2 separate regions of the Homo sapiens genome follow, and region 2 is linked to region 1. A link means that fine-mapping ties the variant in region 1 to the expression of a gene that starts in the linked region. Tissue or cell type: whole blood. Region 1 holds a variant in brackets; the other region holds the start of a gene. All regions are shown on one strand. Distances are between the middles of the regions.

What was found. PIP is the estimated chance that this variant, and not a neighbour inherited with it, causes the effect.
Region 2: it holds the start of TANGO2, and the variant in region 1 is fine-mapped to the expression of TANGO2 in whole blood (TOPMed, PIP 0.99).

The regions. Positions count from the first base shown.
Region 1 is chr22:20,044,929-20,055,206 of GRCh38, forward strand. TANGO2 (transport and golgi organization 2 homolog) reads left to right here. Exons shown (of 9, transcript NM_152906.7): 4 at 7,537-7,656; 5 at 8,509-8,623. Among named protein-coding and RNA genes, the nearest start is that of MIR185, 17 kb to the left of the region's middle. The variant A/G (reference allele first, on the strand shown) is at 6,041.
Region 2 is chr22:20,016,352-20,025,490 of GRCh38, forward strand. TANGO2 (transport and golgi organization 2 homolog) reads left to right here and starts at 4,759. Exons shown (of 9, transcript NM_152906.7): 1 at 4,759-4,895. ARVCF (ARVCF delta catenin family member) reads right to left here and starts at 472. Exons shown (of 20, transcript NM_001670.3): 1 at 238-472. RefSeq lists silencers at 364-763, 4,522-4,911 and enhancers at 5,512-5,561, 6,880-7,019.

The DNA of each region.
Region 1 (10,278 bases):
TCTTGTGGAATTGTTCACCCCTGTGGTGTTTTGATGGTGGCAGCTGGTGCATGGATGTACACGGGCTTCTGCCAAGTGTCGGGGTGACCATATCACTAAGGCCCACATCCTCTCACTCTCTGGCGTCACCGGATTGTATGCAAAAGTTTAGGACAGTGGTTCTCCAGGTGTGGTCCTTGGGCCTGTAGCACCAGCTTTACTTGAGAACTTGTTAGAAATGAAATCACCCTGGGCCGGTGGCTCACACCTGTAATCTCAGCACTTTGGGAGTCCAAGGCAGGAGGATCCCTTGAGGCCAGGAGCTTGAGACCGGCCTGGGCAACGTAGTGAGTCCCTGTCTTTACAAAAAAAAAAAAAAAAATTAGCCAGCTGTGGTGGCATATGCCTGTTGTCCCAGTTACTCAGGAGGCTGAGGTGGGAGGATCGCCTGAGCCTGGAAGGTAGAAGCTGCAGTGAACCGAGACTGAGCCACTGCAGTTAGCCTAGGCAACAGAGTGAGACCCTGTCTGAAAAAAAAGAAAAGAAATGCAAATCAAAATCATTAAATTCATAAAAATTTGGCCATCACTTCTTTTTTTTTTTTTTTTTTTTTGAGATGGAATTTTGCTCTTGTTGCCCAGGCTGGAGTGCAATGGTGCCATCTCAGCTCACCGCAACCTCCATCTCCCGGGTTCAAGCTGTTCTCCTGCTTCAGCCTTCCTAATAGCTGGGATTACAGGCATGCACCACCACACCAGGCTAATTTTGTATTTTTAGTAGAGATGGGGTTTCTCCATGTTGGTCAGGCTGGCCTTGAACTCCCGACCTCAGGTGATCCGCCCGCCTTGTCCTCCCAAAGTGCTGGGATTAGAAGCATGAGCCATTGCACCCAGCGGCCATTACTTTTTCAAGTAGTTTTTCTGTCTTCTCTCTCACTCTCTCCTTCTCTCCAGTTACACACATATATTAGTTCACTTGCCCTTGTCCCACACCTCTGCGATGCTCTCTGCGTACTTTTCTCGGTGCCCCTAGATCTTGAGGTTTTCCAGCCTGGTGTCTGGGAGCCAGCCCTACTCCCTGCCCTGTGTGAGCACTGGTGGTTCTTGCCCCAGTGTCATATAGTCTCCTCCCTGAGATGCTGATCAGACATTCTCTGTGTAGCTCCTTCCTCTCTGGACTTTTGTGCCACTGTCTTAGTTCGTTTGTGTTGCTCTAAAGGAAAAAGCTGAGTCTGGGTAATTTTTTTCTTTTTTTTTGAGATAGGGTCTCACTCTGTTGCCCAGGCTGGAGTGCAGTGGCACAATCCTGTCTCACTGCAGCCTCTAACTCCTGGCCTCAAGTGATCCTCCCACCTCAGCCTCCCTAGTAGCTGGGACTACAAGTGCACATCACCATGCCCAGCTAATTTTTAAAAATAATTTGTAGCGACAAAGCCTTGCTGTGTTGCACAAGCTGGTTTCAAAGTCCTGGCCTGAAGTGACCCTCCTTTCTTGGCCTCCGAAAGTGCTGGGATTACAGATAATAAGCCATGGTGCCCAGCCAAGGCTGGGTAATTTTTTTTTTTTTTTTTTTTTTGAGACAGAGTCTTGCTCTGTCGCTTAGGCTGGAGTGCAATGGTGCGACCTTGGCTCACTGCAACCTCCACCTCCCAGGTTCAAGTGATTCTCCTGCCTCAGCCTCCTGAGTAGCTGGGATTACAGGCACCTGCCACCACACCCTGCTAATTTTTGTATTTTTGTATTTTTTTATTATTATTCTTTAAGTTCTAGGGTACATGTGCAGAACGTGCAGGTTTGTTACATAGGTATACATACATGTGCCATGTTGGTTTGCTGCACCCATCAACTCATCATTTACATTGGGTATTTCTCCTAACGCTATCCTTCCCCCAGCCCAATTTTTGTATTTTTAGTAGAGATGGGGTTTCACCAGGTTGGCTGGGCTGGTCTCAAACTCCTGACCTCAAGTGATCCACAAGGCTGGGTAATTTATAAAGAAAAGAGGTTTATTTGGCTTAGAGTTCTACAGGGGACCTGAAGCACAGTGTCAGCATCTGCTTCTGATGCAGGCCTCAGGAAGCTTCTACTGATGGTGGAAGGGGAAGGGGAGGTGGTATGTGCAGATCACACACGGAGGGAGGAAGCCAGAGAGAGGGAGGAGGCGCCACGCTCTTTTAAACAACCAGTTCTCAAAGGAACTAATAGAGCTAGAACTCATCACTGTGAGGACAACACCAAGCCGTTCATGAAGGATCTGCCATTAGGTAGATCTGTCTCCCATTAGACCCCACCTCCAACACTGGGGATCAGTTTTTTGGTTTGTTTGTTTTTTTTTTTTTTTTTTGAGACAGAGTTTCACTCTTGTTGCCCAGGCTGGAGTGCAATGGCACGATCTCGGCTCACCACAAGCTCCGCCTCCAAGGTTCAAGCAATTCTCCTGCCTCAGCCTCCTGAGTAGCTGGGATTACAGGCGCCTGCCACCATGCCCAGCTAATTTTTTGTGTTTTTAGTAGAGACGGGGTTTCACCATGTTGGTCAGGCTGGTCTCGAACTCTTGACCTCAGGCAATCCACCCGCCTCAGCCTCCCAAAATGCTGAGATTAGAGGCGTGAGCCACCTCACCCAGCCCGGGGATCAGATTTTAACATGAGGTCTGGGGGACAAACATCCAAACTATGGCAGCCATGAACTCTGGTTGTCTTAGTTTCCCCAAACACTAAGCCCCTCTTCTCAGCTCAGGGAGTCTGCTGAATTCGGCCTGGTCCCCCCACTCCCTGGGCTGGGTCCTGGAGCCTCTCTAATCATGGGCTCACTTTGTTTCCTGTCTGTCATATCCTTTTTTGTAAAACCCATTTGATATGGTTTGGCTGTGTCTCCACCCAAATCTCATCTTGAATTATAGTTCCCCAAATCCCCACATGTCCTGGGAGAGACCCAGTGGGAGGTAATTGAATCATGGGGCATTACCCCCATGCTGCTATTCTCATGATAGTGAGTTCTCATGAGATCTGATAGTGTTTTGTTTTTTTTTTTTTGAGACTGAGTTTCGCTCTTGTTACCCAGGCTGGAGTGCAATGGTGCGATCTCGGCTCACTGCAACCTCCACCTCCCAGGTTCAAGCAATTCTCCTGCCTCAGCCTCCTGAGTAGCTGGAATTACAGCCGCTTGCCACCACGCCCAGCTAATTTTTGTATTTTTAGTAGAGATGGGGTTTCACCATGTTGGCCAGGCTGGTCTCGAACTCCTGACCTCAGGTGATCCGCCTGCCTCGGCCTTCCGAAGTGCTGACATTACAGGCATGAGCTGCCGCTCCCAGCCAAGATCTGATGGTTTTATAAGGGGCTTTTCCTGCTTTGCTTGGAACTTCTCCTTCCTGCCACCATGTGAAGAAGGACATGTTTGCTTCCCCTTCTGCCATGATTGTAAGTTTCCTGAGGCCTCCCCAGCCATGCTGAACTATGAGTCACATATCTTTCCTTTATAAATTACCCAGTCTCGGGTATGTCCTTGTAGCAGCATGAGAATGGACTAATAAATACACCATTGTTTCTTGAGTTTTATTTATTTATTTATTTTTTGGTTGTTTTATGCAGGAGGGTAAATCTGGTCCTTGTTGCTTGGGCAATTTGGAAGTTTTGTTCTTGTTTTAATTATTGATTTGTAAGAGTTATTTACCCATTCTGGATATGAGTCCTTTGTGCCTACTCATTTCCTTAATGATAGCTTATGGTGAGCAGAATTTTTTTTTTTTCTTTTGAGTGGGTGGAGTCTTACTCTGTTGCCAGGCTGGAGTACAGTGGTGCGATCTCAGCTCACTGCAACCTCCGCCTCCCAGGTTCAAGTGATTCTTCTGCCTCAGCCTCCTGAGTAGCTGGGACTACAAGCATGCACCACCATGCCCAGCTAATTTTTGTATTTTTAGTAGAGATGGGGTTTCACCATGTTGGCCAGGATGGGCTCAATCTCTTGACCTCTTGATCTGCCTGCCTTGGCCTCCCAAAGTGGTAGGATTACAGGCGTGAGCCACTGCGCCCGGCCAGAATATTTCATTTTAACAAAGTACAGTTTATCTTATCTTTTATGAGTTGTTCTTTTTGTGCCTTATCCAAAAAGTCTTTGCCTACCCAGAGGAAAATATATAACAATATTTTCCTCCATTTGCTTCTAGAAGCCTAATTTTTGTTTTTATGTTTGGTCTATGATTTATCTCAAGGTTTTGTACATGGTGTGAGGTAGGGGTTGAGATTTACTGCCTCCAACCCCCAAATCTCTCTAGTTGTTCCAGCATCATTTATTAAATGGATTATCTTTTGCCTAGTTCATTACTATGGCAACTTGGTTGTACATCAGTTGAACATATATGTGTGGGTCTATTCCTGACTCTGTTGTATCCCATTGATCTATGTATCTGTCTTGATGCCAACACCATGCAGTCTATGAGTGCTGCTGCTTTTTAGTAAGTCTTGAAATCAGGCTGAGCACTGTGGCTCACACCTGTAATCCCAGCACTTTGGGAGACCGAGGTGGGCAGATCACCTGAGGTTGGGAGTTCAAGACCAGCCTGACCAACATGGAGAAACCCCGTCTCTACTAAAAATACAAAATTAGCTGGGTGTGGTGGTCCATGCCTGTAATCCCAGCTACTCGGGAGGCTGAGGCAGGAGAATCACTTGAACCCGGGAGGCGGAGGTTGCGGTGAGCTGAGATCACGCCATTGCACTCCAGCCTGGGTAACAAGAGCGAAACTCTGTCTCAAAAAAAAAAAAAAAAAGAAAAAAGAAATCAGGCAATGTGGGTCTGCCTTCTTTTTCGGGACTATTTTGGCCATCCCAGTTCCTTTGCATATGCATAGATATTTCAGCCAGTCTGTTAATTGCTATAAAACGAAAAGCCCCCTGGGATTTTGACTGGGCAGGTTTTGAATCTATGGGTCATGTGGGGAGAAGTGTCACCTTAACAATACTGAGTTGTCTAAGAAGTACCCAGTGAAACAAATAATAACAAGAAGAAACACTGTTGAGGCTGGGCACGGTGGCTCACGCCTGTAATTCCAGCACTTTGGAAGGCCGAGGCGGGCCGATCATGAGATCAGGAGACCGAGACCATCTTGGCTAACACGGTGAAACCCTGTCTCTACTAAAAAAATATGAAAAAATTAGCTAGGTGTGGTGGTGGGCACCTGTAGTCCCAGCTACTTGGGAGGCTGAGGCAGGAGAATGGCCTGAACCCGGGAGGCGGAGCTTGCAGTGAACTGAGATCACACCACTGCACTCCAGCCTAGGCGACAGAGCAAGACTCTAAAAAACAAAAACAAACAAAAAAACACTATTGAATCTTTCAGTGAATATGCATGTCTCTCCTTAAATCAGGTCAGCTCAACTTGAGACCCTCAACAGTGCCCTGGAGTTTTCAGTCTTTGTCACTCATTTTTCATTAAATATTTTCCTGGTGGTTTTTTTTTTTTTTTTTTTTTTTGAGACGGAGTCTTGGTCTGTTGCCCAGGCTAGAGTGCAATGGCGCCATCTCTGCTCATTGCAACCTCCACCTCCCGGGTTCCAGCAATTCTCCTGTCTCAGCCTCCCGAGTAGCTGGAACTACAGGTGCCTGCCACCATGCCCAGCTAATTTTTGTATTTTTAGTAGAGATGGGGTTTCATCATATTGGCCAGGCTGGTCTCGAACTCCTGACCTCGTGATCCGCCCGCCTTGGCCTCCCAAAGTGCTGGGATTACAGGCGTGAGCCACTGCACCCGGCTTTTTTTTTTTTTTTTAATCACACTAAGGATTTTAAAAATGCTGTTATAAATGGTATATTTAAATGCTCACTTTCCAGTTCTTGCTAGCATTTACTTATTAGTTCTAATACATCGGTTTTGGTATTCCTTTTGGGTTTTCTTCATATATGATCCTGCTGGTTGCAAATACAGTTTTGTTGGGTTTTTTTTTTTTTTTTGAGACAGAGTTTCGCTGAGAGTGCAATGGTGTGATCTCGGCTCACTGCAACCTCCACCTCCCGGGTTCAAGCAATTCCCCTGCCTCAGCCCCCCGAGTAGCTGGGATTAT[A/G]GGCTGCCTCAGCCTCCTAAGTAGTTGGGATTACAGGCATGCACCACCACGCCTGGCTAATTTTGTATCTTTAATAGAAATGGTGTTTCTCCATGTTGGTCAGGCTGGTCTTGAACTCCCAACCTCAGGTGATCTGCCCGCCTCGGCCTCCCAAAGGGCTGGGATTACAGGTGTGAGTCACCGCACGGGGCCACAAATACAGTTTTATTTCTTTATTTTTGATCTTTACATCTTTTCTTTTTCTGTTATAATTAATTATTGTTATAAAAATAATATCTTAGGGCCAGGCACGGTGGCTCACACCTGTAATCCCAGCACTTTGGGACGCCAAGGCGGACGGATCACCTGAGGTTGGGAATTCGAGACCAGCCTGGCCAACATGGAGAAACTCCGTTTCTACTAAAAATACAAAATTAGCCAGGTGTGATGGCACATGCCTGTAATTCCAGCTACTCAGGAGGCTGAGGCAGGAGAATCGCTTGAACCCAGGAGGGAGAGGTTGCAGTGAGCCGAGAGCACACCATTGCACTCCAGCCTGGGCAACAAGAGCGAAACTCTGTCTCAAAAAGTAATAATAACAATAATAAATAAAATAACATCCTAGCCAGTGCAGTGGCTCACTCCTGTAATCCCAGCACTTTGGGAGGCTGAGTCGGGAGGATCGCTTGAGCCCAGGAGTTCGAGACAAGCCTGGGCAACACAGCAAAACTTTGTCTGTACAAAAAAATGCAAAAATCAGCCGAGTGTGATGGTACCTGCCTGTGGTCCCAGCTACTTGGGCTGAGGTGGGAGGATCGCTTGAGCCTGGGAGGTGGAGGTTGCAGTGAACTGTGTGATTGCCACTGAACTCCAGCTTGGGTGACAGAGTGAGACTCTGTCTCAAAAAAATAAAAAATGAAATAAAATAATAAAAATAACATCTTAATGACAGCCTTTTTTGCCCCAATCTTTGGGTAAAATGACCCCCTGGTCTAAGAAGGAGCCCTCCTGTGGCTTTCAGAGCCCTCCAACCTTGTGGCATTAGCAGTGGCCCATGCCCTGCAGATTTGGCGGGGGTGAAGGTCCTGGTTGTGTGCTGGGCTCCTAGTGAAGGGCCTGCCCTTTGGGCCTGGTGCATCCTGCTGGGTGAGGACAGCCAGCGTCCCTGCACCCCATTCATGCGATTGGAGCCTAGTGCTGCCCCTCAGCCTTGACGCTGGCCCAAGTGGAAGGATGTGTTCTGCAGGGCATCTGTTGGGATAGGTGTGGTTGGTGTCATAGTTGTCCTGCAGGACAGGGATCTCACTTGCACGACCCATGAACCCCAGGGGCTGCCTGGCCTTGAAGAGTTCCAGCCACGATTCCATAGCTGGGGCTGCTGGGCCAAGCCGCATGTCGAACGTCCTCGAGGAGCTTGAGGCAGGAGCTGGGCCGAGTATGCGTCTCCCAGGGCTGGGAACCAGGTGGGGGACTGGAATGGGTGGCATCAATGGTGGTAACACTGTCATCTGCCACAGGGCTGGACATGGAGGAAGGCAAGGAAGGAGGCACATGGCTGGGCATCAGCACACGTGGCAAGCTGGCAGCACTCACCAACTACCTGCAGCCGCAGCTGGACTGGCAGGCCCGAGGGCGAGGTAAGGCGAGTGGGGTGGGGCCAAGGTGAGACAGGGTGGGGTGGGGCAGGCCTAGGTGAGACAAGGTGGGGCCAAGGGACTACAGGACTGGCCAATGTATGGTGGAGTGGGGCGGGCCAAGGTAGGAAGTGCCAAGGTGCTTGTGCTTGGGAGTGGGATGGGGCAGGGCTGAGGTACCGTGGGGCAGGGCCAGGTTACAGAGTGGGCGGTGACAAAGCGTGGCAGGGCAGGGCCCAGGTAAGGGTGGGGACAAGAAGGGGGAAGCTGGGCCCCGTGGCAGGTGGGTGGCTTCCGTGGGCATATCACTGCCGCCACTGAGGTGTGCTGCAGGGGTATGCGGCAGAGACAGGAAGAGTGAGGAGGGGAGCATCCCATTTCCCACACCCTGGCCCTCTGGCGTCGCAGCCAGGAGCCCACTCCCACCTGACCCACGCAGCACTGTTTACTCCTCTCAGGGCGCACTCTCCCCTTGTCCTCATGCATGGCACTCCTGACTGCTGTGTCACTGTCCCCTGCCTGGAATGTTTGTAGAGTAGATGCCTTCCCCGAGACGACAGCTCTGTGGACACACATTGTCCCCACTGAAAGGTGTTGTTTACTTCATGCTGGATTTCCATAGGAAGACATAGTGGGGAAATTTTTTTTTTAATAAAATGAGCAGTTTTCAGTGCCGACCTGAGTGGCAGCCAGGCTAATGAGGTGTGGCTGACTCTTGCGGCAGTCATGACAGGCCAGGGCTCCAGTGGGACCCCTCATCTTCCTGCATCCTCCCCAGGGGGCCCCATATCAGTGTTCCTGGGAGAAGAGCACATGCCTGCAGCTGTGGACACAGCATCTGTCCCCTGCCTACAGGTGAACTTGTCACCCACTTTCTGACCACTGACGTGGACAGCTTGTCCTACCTGAAGAAGGTCTCTATGGAGGGCCATCTGTACAATGGCTTCAACCTCATAGCAGCCGACCTGAGGTGGGTCTGCCAGAGGGGGATGGCGGCTCTGCCCAGCACTGCCTCGGGGGCAGGCCTCAGGCTCATCAGGAAGTGGGGTTCCACTGGGGGCTGTGGCAGCCTCTCCAGGGACGTTGCTCCTCGTGACTTGGCAAACATTCTGAGGACTGAGCCTGTCACAGATGTACCAACTCGGGTATTTGGGGGTGAAGCCCAAGGCTTCCTGTGATGGCATGAGGGCTGCCGGATCCCTGGAGAAAGCTGAGGCTGTGAAGAACAGTCACATAGAGTGGCTCTGGCCGGGTGTCCTCCCTCCCACGGGCAGGCTGTGCAGAGCAGCCCTCCGCAGCCCTGGCTTGGAGTGACTGGGATGCTGTGCTCCCAGGGAAGCTCCTGTTGGAGATGAGGCCGCAGGAACTGCGGAGGTTTTGGTGTTTTGCCCTTCCGTGAAGTGAGCATTCCTCCCTCCTGCCCTCCTCCCCCTCCAAAGCCCCAGAACTTGGCCAATGCTGTTAGTCCGGGGCCTTCTGCCAGGACAGGCAAACGGGAAGTGGTCGGCACATTGTGGCGGGCCCTGAAGCTGCCTCCTTCCACAAGGGCAGGTCCATGGGCCTCTCTCCTGGCTCCCGAGCTCCAGGCCTGCTGTTCGTTGAGCATCCCTTGTGTGTGGCATGCCCAGCCCTGCCCCACATGGGTCTGCACACTTGCTATGGAGGCTGGGAGAGTTGCAGTGTCCCCTAGGTGGAAGGCCGAGGGCTGGTGCGGGGCACTTGCTGTCCGGAGCCGTTCTTCCTGCCCATGCCTTCGTGACTCCAGGTGGCAGAGCCCCTGTGCTCTCTGCATGCCCCCATGCTCAGGAACCACTTTTCCCGGTCAGTAGTTCCATGTGGGTCTGATTAGTCTCAGGAGAGTTCCTCTGCGGCCGTGGCACCAGCAGGACTTGGCACTCAGCAGCTGTGTGGAGGTGGGGTGCCAAGGGTGCCATGCCTTGAGCAGATACACGGGCTCCTGTGGTTGGGGGTTGGGGGTTTGGGCTCCTCAGAGCCTGTGCAACTCTCCCGGCTCCAAAGGCTGCAGAGTGAGGGTCAGCCTCCTGGACCTAGCCTGAGGATACAGGCAGTGGCCAGGAGAGCATACCACAGGTCAGGCAAAAGCTGGTGCCAGGGCCGAGGCTGGAGGGCGGGGGCATCGGAGGTCAGTGAGCAGCCCTGCTGGTAGGTGCAGATGAGGAAGCCAAGGCCTGGAAGGGAGAGAGGCTTGTCATGGCCACAGCTATCCCTGGGTGAGGCCTGCCCTCCGCCTGGCCTGTGGTATAGTGCTGGCAGCATGGGTGTCCAGTTCTGTAGGTCCTTACACAGAAAGCCCAGAGGAGATTTTTGCCTGCAAACAGTCTCTGAAATTATGAACCAAGTATCTTAGGAAAGTTGCCAAAGACCATGGTGAGGAAGAACGGGAGTGGAATGTGAACATAGACGGGGGGGCCCTTGAAGCCTACCAGGGGTGGGGAAGGTGGGTCCCACCTGGGGGCAGCACTTCGGGGAGGAAGGCACCATGCCTGGCTCTTTCTCTGCATCTGTTCCATCTTGAAGGCCCAGGGCTCCATGCCCAGCATCTGGCCTGGGAGGGCATCTCACAGGCCACAAAGAGATCCTCTTCACTTTGCAAAAAAGGCACTC
Region 2 (9,139 bases), 29 kb before region 1:
GCCCCCGCCGGCCCGGGGTCTCGGACGCCGCAGAGCGCGCGGACAAGACGCGGGTGGGGCGGAGATTGGCTCCGACGTCCGGCCCAGACCCTCGCCCGGATCTCGACTCCAGGGATAGGACCCTGTCCGGACCGCTGCCCGGAATGCGTCCCATATCTGCAGCCCCGCCCCCAGTCCCGGCTCCGACCCGAGGCCCCAGCCCCGGGTCCCACACCCCGCCCACTGGCTCAGGCTTACCTGGAGCGCAGCGTGGGCGGCCCCGCAGCGCGGCCTCGGACCCCAGAAGGGCTTCCCCGGGTCCGTTGGCGCGCGGGGAGCGGCGTTCCCAGGGCGCGGCGCGGTGCGGCGCGGCGCGGGTCGCAGTCCACGCGGCCGCAACTCGGACCGGTGCGGGGGCCGCCCCCTCCCTCCAGGCCCAGCGCGCAACCCGAGACCCCGGGCCAGCCCTCCCGCCCTCACGCGGCCCGTGCGCAAAGCGGACCGGGCCGGCGACGCGAATCTCCGCCCCGCCCCATCTGACAGCAAATTTTCCCATTGGTCGAGAGACCCGGCGCGGCACGGCAACCGGCGCCGATTGGGCGGATGCGCGGAGATGACGGCTTGCCATTGGGCCTCCGGGATGTCAGTCCCGGCGGATGACCGGCCCCCTCGCGGAGGGGCCGCGGCCCCGCACCTGCCCGAACCTCTGCGGCGGCGGTGGCAGGGTACGCGGGACCGCTCCCTCCCAGCCGACTTACGAGAACATCCCCCGACCATCCAGCCCCGAGCAGGGACTGGCAGAGCCGGCGCCCCTTCCCCGGACTCTGGCCGCGTAGCCTCCGCCACCACTCCCAGTTCACAGGTATCCTTCTTCAGCGCCTGCTACTCGCTGCGCGCTGCGCGCCGCTCCCTCCTGTCGACATCGAATTGTATTCTTCACGCAAGCCGCGAGAGAGAGTTCTGCTGCTATCCCCATTTTACAGTTGGGAAACAGCCTCAGAGAGGTTCTCACTTGCTTGAACACAGTCGTCTGACCCTGGGGCCTGGGGGCTCTCTCATCCTCACGCCCCTGGGTCCCCGCAGCGGGGAGACGATGGAGGTAGGAGCTGCAGTATTTCCGAGGGCAGGAAGGGACCCCCTCGGTAAACCAGGGGCTCACCTCCCCCACCAGGCCTGGATGTAGAGACCTCTTGGGCTTGTCCCACCCTGCAGGCCCCCCATGGGGCCGCCCTTTCTTACCTCCTCCTGGCATTCTCACAGCCCCACAGCTCTGCGTCTGGGGAGGCAGAGTTGTGCGTTTATGCCCGCACCCCGTACTACTGTCCCATTTTCTTCACCCTACCTGGAGTCAGGAAGAAACGGTGCTTCACTGCCTGTTGAGATTCACGTAGGTTACATTTCCTTGCCAGATTAAGAGCACCTGACATGAGTGGGACCATGACCCTCCGCCAGCTCTGCGTAACCTTGTGGTGTAGGGGGGAACCAGCAGGGATGCTGCCCAGTGGGCTTTTCTAGGGGGAGGTCCTGAGATGACTTCTTAGCCAGTGACCCTGGCTCACGCATGCTGTCATCCTTTCCTGCCCTGGATGCACCTGGAGATGACCAGTTCCTCGGCTCATTGCATTCTCCAAGGCCGCCTGGGGAACCAAACTGCCCACAACCATGCTTATGAGTGGTGGAGGGGTGTGACCAGACACTCTTGTCTTATCCACCCATATTGGGAGTCCAGTGTGTTCATCCAATCATTCCTTGGCCAGGACAAAGAAAATGAAATGGCCCAAGGCAAGAACTCACTGCTGGGACCACCGCTGGGTCCATCTGTGTGCTGGCAGCATGGTGAATCGATCCCAGCTGCCTTTCAGAGCCAGGCAGCTACTATCAATCGATTGGAGCTGGCACTTGACGTGCCAATTGGCCTCCTGGCATAGGGTTGTTGCTTGCTGCTCTGGGAGGGCAGAATGAAGTAGCTGTCCCTAGAATAGGGGCCCTCACAAACCAGGTAGCTGTCATCCTGTGGAGCAGCACCATGGTGACATTCTGGCTCAGGTGCTGTGTAGCTGAGGGGTCGTTTCCTCCATTTAGGAGTAGACGTAATGAGTCCAGCTGTCCCCAGCCATCTCTTCAAGGCCATTGGACCCTGGTTCTGCTGGAGCCCCTCTTCTCACAGTTACCTCATAGTCCTGCACCACCCCCTCCCCACACTTGCAAGAGGGACTGGACAGACCTCTGTTGAAAGAGTGCAAAAGACAGAACCATACACCAAAATCTGTGCAAGTGAGACTACCTCTCCTCTCATCACCACCCCTACCACCCATAGGGTTGCAGAGACCTGTCTGCCCTCGGCAGGCAGGATCATTAGCTGAGGTCAGAGGATGTCGGGGCAGCACCAATTCAAACAGGACTCAGGACCGCTGTCCAGCAGTCGGCCCATTAGGCTGCAGCCAGGGGTCAGAAACACAACAAGGGAGGCTGGGCGCAGTGGCTCATGCCTGTAATCCCAGCACTTTGGGAGGCCAAGGCAGGCAAATCACCAGAGGTCAGGAGTTCGAGACCAGCCTGGCCAACATAGCAAAACCCCATCTCTACTAAAAGAATACAAAAAAAAGTAGCGGGGCATGGTGGTAGACGCCCATAGTCCCAGCTACTTGGGAGGCTGAGGCAGGAGATCGCTTGAACCTGGGAGGCGGAGGTTGCAGTGAGCTGAAATTGCACCACCGCACGGCAGCCTAGGAGACAGAGCGAGACTCCATCTCAAAAAAAAGGAAAAAAGAAAAAGATAAGAAAAACACAGCAAGGGAGACCACAGGGACCAGTAGCCCAGTGTTCTCCCTCTCTCATCCTCTCACCTAGCTCCATGCGGACAGCTGTGAGGCCCCCGGAGAAAGCCACAGAGAGAAAATGCTTTCAGCTGGGTGTCAAGAACTTTTCAAGAGTGGCAGCTGTTGAAATCAAAAGAGTGGCCACAGAAGGTAGTGAGCTTCCTATCTGAGTTTGTGTGCAATTAGAGGTTGGATGCCAGTGAGCCTGTTGCAGCCCCAAGATCCCAGGGCTTAGGTGCCCATCCTAGACCCATTTCATCTGCCGTCACCTGCTTCCTGGCATCGCATGTCATCCAGACTGGAGTGTCAGTGGTGACAAAGAAGATCAGAGTGTCTGCTCTGGCTCTGTCTAGCTGGGAAAAGTATGGCTGGGGGTGGGGATGGCCCAAGGCCACAAGGTATGACAGAACAGGATGCAAACCACCATCTGACATGTTACTGCATCCCTCTTTGTGGGCAAAGGGAAACCTTGGTCAACTCATGTCCAGCTTTGAGGTGCATGGCCTGGTGCTTTGGGGAAGCCCATTCTCCAGGTGCTGCCATGAACCCCAGGGCACAGTCCATCACCCCCAAGCCCCAGATCCCACTTGTCCACCACCACCACCTCTTGGCCCTATAGATTGCATAGGTTTGGCTGCTCAGAGGGAAATCACTGGTACCAGCCCCACATGATCCCACTGCTGGATGGTGGGAGAGACAACCATGTCTGGCTGGGTCTGCGGCCCGCTGGCCATGAGTCCCTGGGCATCTGGAGTCCTTGTAAAAGGTTCTGTTGGGTTCCAGGGGAAACACAGATAAGATAGCAAAAGTGTGGAGCACAACGGGCCCGCATGTAGGTCCAGGTTAGACTCTTGCCGTTGCTGATTACCAGCCAGGCTCTTCCCATCCCTGAGCCCCAGTTTTCTGCAGGGCATCAGGGCACCTAGGTCTTCAACACAGGTTGAAGCTAATGTGGCCTCTCTTGCTTGCCACCTTTTTCAACTTCAACTGAATGACATAACTGCTCCAAGTCTCAGTGTTTACATCTATAAAGTGGGATGAAAGAACTGCTGACCCAGACATTGGGTTTAGAGTGCTTTACACATTATCATTATCCCTAATGTCTTTGTCATCCATGTCATAGTTTTTTGAATGCTCACTTTGAGGCAGGGCCTGAGCCTCTGGGCTTTGACTCTCCACCTTTCTGCCACATAGGCCCAGGCACAGCCCAGAGGCTACAGGAGCAGCGGTCCCAGCTAATGCCTCTGTCCTGTTGGGAGGGCCCCAGTCAGTGCCCACCTGCTCACCCTGCACAAGTCAAGCTGGGCCAGCCCCTCGTCGCTGGGGCCTGGACCTGGATGTGAGCTCAAAGGCTACACTGGGGGGTGGAAGTGGGGGAGGTGGTGGGTGTGCAGGGTATAGTGCTCAAATGCCTAGTCCAGGGTCTGGGGGTACATACTGGGAATGGCAGGGACATCAGGGAGGAAAGAGCCGACCTGGAGGCCATAAAGTGAAGGAAGGGATGACCAAGAGGAAGATGGCCAGGTCCAGAGGTGGGGTTGAGTGAACAGGATGGGGAGACCAGGACGCAGTCTGAGGGGGCCAGTCCGGAAGTGAGCATTCCTGTACCTCTTCCGAGAGAGGCCGCAGGGTGAGCAGGTGACAGATGGTGTCCATGAGGGCATGGACTCAGGGGCGGCTGCGACCTCCCATGGCGTCCCTGCAGGCAGGGAGCCGCGGAGTCCCCGAAGGCCGCTGGATCAGGAAGCGCTCAGACGCCCGCGCAGCCCGAAGCTTTGGCGCAGCCCCGGGGGCGGGGCGCCAGGAGGTGGCAGCCTCCGAGCGACAGCGCGCCCAGCCAACGGGACGCCGGCATGCGGCGCGCCGCCCCGCCCCTCGCTGCGCGGCCCAATGGTGAACGCGCCGGCTTCGGGCTGGGCGGTACTGGGCTGGCTGCGGTGGCGCGCGGGCGCGGCACCCGGAAGTCGGCGGCGGTGGCGGAGGCGGTGAGTGCGCGGCTCCGGGGCTGGCCGACTCCGCTAGTGGCCCGGCCGGCCTGGGCTCGGGGGCTCCGGGCTCTGGGCTCTGGGTGCGCGGACCGGGCCAGGCTGCTTGAAGGTGGGTGGGCTGGCCGCACTTCCTCACCCTGCCTCAGTTTCCCCTTTCTGAGGTATGGTATAGAATCAGGCGGCTGGGTCAGGGGCAACCACGTCGATCCCGGCCGACGAAAATGCCCCGCGCGTTACTGGAAGGTGTTTTTGATAATCCCCGCTGGCACGGGATGCGAGGGACTCTGGCAGGTGGGACCAGACTCGCTGCGGGGAGGCTGAGATCGGCAGGGTTGGGAGCTGCGTGGTCCCTGCAGGGTGTGTGGGCTGCTCGGCCTTGGCCAGCATCAGGGACAGCTCTGGCGCCCGGTCACTCTGCCCCCTACCCGCGGCCTGCTGCGGGCCAGCAGGGTGACAGCTAATGTGGGTGTGAGTAGATAGTAAGTGCTGGGTCATCCCTGCGCCTGGATGCGGCCTTCCTGGGGAGGTTTGGGTAGTTAGATCCCCCACCCCCAACTCCAGAGCGTCAGAGGTAGGGGCTGGCAGGGCTGCACTCAGGGCAGTCCTTGCCCCACCGCTGGGCTTTGTAGCAGCCTGGGCTTTGCCCGTTTTCCTCTAGGAAGTGGGCACAGAGGGCTGTTTGCTGAGACCCCCACCTTCCCTGCCCCTAGCACCTCTCCTGTGCTCCCTTGGCTTCCTGCTGGACCACAAGCTTTAGAGTGAACCGTCTGCCCTTGGACAAGTCCCTGGGCCTCAGGCCCCCTTCCTCTTCAGGAATGTCACATGCCCTGCCCTGGCCAGGCCTGTTTGCACTGTCGTGTGGCTCTAGACCTGCTGACCACTGTTTTGCTGCCACTCTGGGCACAGTGCCCTCTTCCATGAGGCAGATGTGACGGCAGCTATAAGGGGGTAGCTGAGTAGCTCTTTGGAAGGCTTTCTCACGCTAGCTCATTTGCCTCTGGGCAGCCTTTTGGGGCAAGCATTCATTGATCCAGTCCTGCTCATACAAGGAAAACTCAGGCTAAGGTGGCAGATCGTGTTCCCAAGGTCATTCAGAGCCAGGGCCTGCTCCCAGTGCCTCTACTACTCCTGGGCCACTCTCTTAGGAGTGTCCCTGTGTCTGTGTCCTGCGTCTGTGTTGGGTGGGCTGGGAGCAGCTGGAGAGGGTGACCATGTTGTTAGATGGACACAGCAGAGCCTCTGTTCCCACAGGATCCTAGTGCTCTGGTGGTCCAGGGTAGGGTGCCCTGGTGCCCCCACCCCCTTTGACCCCTACACAGCTTTGTGTTACTTGCATGTCCTCAGACTGCAGGCCCCTCAGACCAAGCCCCTGCCTGCTGTGATGTGTGGTGGCCATAGCCCTTCCCTGAGCTAAGGTGACCAGCTGTCAGCTCTTCCTGGGCTGCCCAGCCTCTTGTGCTTCCTTGGTCTTCACTTGTGGGCTGTCATTCTGATTACGTTTTGCAGTGTGTGGAATCACGTGCAGTGTCCTGGGAACTTGATCCTGTGCCCGGCTTCTGCGCCAGACGGCGAACTTGGAGGGCACCCCGGTGCCCACCCAAGGGTGCTGCTTCTGAAAACACCCACAGGGATATGAGGGGCTTCTCAGGGACCCCAGAAGGGGTCTGGAGAGAAATGGCCCGGGATAGGGAGGCTGGGAAGACTTCTCGAAGTAGGGCCATGCTTGTCATTGACACTCCAGATGCATGAGAAGCAGGGCCCATCCTTTGGTGACGTGTCAGTCAGCACATGGCAGCAGCATGGCAGAGCCTGGCCTTTGTTGGCCCCTACCATAGGGCTTGGGCTGTCTTGAAAACAAGCCTATCCCTACCATGAGGATGGGCTCCGTGAAAACAAGGTCACCCCAGAAAGACTGAGCTGCTTTTTGAGGTTATCACAGCTTTTTCCCCTTTTTCTCTCAACTTCCCTTTTAGACTGCAAAAATAGTTTATGCATGCTTAAAGATAAAAAAGGCTGGCCTCCTTCTCCCAGCGGCTGCTCCCCTGGTGCACTTGCTGACATTTGGGGGTACATCCATTGAGATCTTCAGTGCCATGCTAACTTGAAACTTGAAGTGCTTGCCTTCATCCTCTTTGCGGGCATGGTAGGAGTGCCCCCCTTTTTTTTTGTTTTTACTAACCACTCAGGCCGCAGGGGCCGCTGCGAGGCTGGCCTGTCCCTGGCTTGTGAGGAAGCTGAGTGTTCCTCCCAGGAGGGCCTGAGGATGGGGCCACCCTGTGTCCAGAGCTTGCTGTCTGCTCACGATGCCTCTTGTTTGTGCTATTCCTTGGAACTGGGAAGAGACAGTGATCCTCTGGTGTGAGGCTGAAGAAATGCCCCGGAAGCATTGTGAAGATCTGAGGAGAGAGTACCACTGTAGAAAATGTGTCATGATAGGCCAAGCACGGTGGCTCACGCCTGTAATCCCAGCAGTTTGGGAGGCCGAGGCGGGTGGATCACGAGGCCAGGAGATCGAGACCATCCTGGCTAACACGGTGAAACCCCGTCTCTACTAAAAATACAAAAAAATTAGCCGGACGTGGTGGTGGCAGGCACCTGTAGTCCCAGCTACTCGGGAGGCTGAGGCAGGAGAATGGCGTGAACCCAGGAGGCAGAGCTTGCAGTGAGCCGGGATCGTGCCACTGCACTCCAGCCTGGGCAACAGAGCGAAACTCCATCTCAAAAAAAAAAAAAGAAAATGTGTCATAATAAAATGCCATTTAGGCCCGGCACGGTGGCTCACACCTATAATCCCAGCACTTTGGGAGGCCGAGACAGGTGGATCACCTGAGGTCAGGAGTTCGAGATCAGCCTGGCCAACATAGTGAAACCCCGTCCCTACTAAAAACAAAATACAAAAATTTGCTGGGCATGGTGGCAGGTGCCTGTAATCCCAACTACTCGAAAGGCTGAGGCAGGAGAATTGCTTGAACCCAGGAGGCGAACGTTGCAGTGAGAGAGGTCACCCTCTCCAGCTGCCCCCAGCCCACCCAACAGGACCATTGCACTCCAGCCTGGGCGACAAGAGCAAAACTCCATCTAAAAATAAAAATAAAAAATGCCATTTAATAGCCAGAGAGTGTAAACTGGTGAGCTCTTGCTGCGGAGATAGGAGGGAGCAGGGCATTGCAGTGGACTGGAGACTCAGAGGGTTTCCTGACGTCAGGACTTTCTTCGCCCAGGCCCCGTGAACAGCGACACTGTGTTCCCACGTGTGTTTACCTCCTCTGCTGACAGCCACCGGGAGCCCGCGTCACATGTCTGTGTCTGCCTTTGAAAAGAGCAACTCGTGCTTTCAAGCTCTGCCCCTGGGGGCTGCCACCGCTGATGGAGTGGGGATTACAAGGGATGGGGATTGGGCGCCCGGCTGCTCAGCCCTGCAGCACCAGCCCTTGTGGCCATTGAGGCCATTAAATGGGGGCAGCAGACTGTAGGGCTTAGTCACCCTCTGTTCAGGGACTCACCATGTGCAGCCCCAATAGGAGCCCGACTTGATGGCTACCCTCCCAAGTGTCTAGGTCCCCTTGACCCTGTGGTACTAATAGCTTGCCATTCCTCTGTCACCACTGCTTTCTGCTTAGCACACATCCCCTCTGCCCATGTGCTATGCTTGCCTTTTCGCTTGCCAAAGGGAAGTGGTTCCGCCAAAAGCGTGTGTCCCATCCCCTCTGGCCCCCAGGGTCTCCAGGTGTGGTGTTGCTGCGACAGCCCAGCTACACCCCGTCCTATGCAGAGCTGTCTTGCACCAGGGCTGATTGGGTCTTCTCTTGCTTTCTGTGAACAAGTGACTCTTGGGTTCTTGCCCTTCCTTCCCTCTCTTCCCTGCCCATAGAAATGTCCCAGCCCTGGCAGGGAAGGAGGGCAGGATCTGTACATTTTCTTTTTTTTTGCGTTTTGAGACAGAGTCTTGCTTTGTCACCTCAAAAGGCTGAGGCAGGAGAATCGCTTGAATACCGGAGGCAGAGGTTGCAGTGACCTGAGATCGTGCCACTGCAACCTCTGCCTCTCAGGTTCAATGCGATTCTCCTGCCTCAGCCTCCTGAGTAGCTGGGATTACAGGCGTGCATCACCACGCCCTGCTAATTTTTGTGTTTTTAGTAGAGACGGGGTTTCACCATTTTAGCCAGGCTGGTCTTGAACTCCTGACCTCAGGTGATCCACCCACCTCGGCCTCCCAAAGTGTTGGGATTACAGGTGTGAGCCACTGTGCCTGGCCAGTGCACTTTCTTTTGAGGGTAGACATTACTGTTCCCCGCCGGGAAGCATGCTTACTGGGTGTGCACGCTTTCAGTGTCTGGCGTGACAGATTGTACA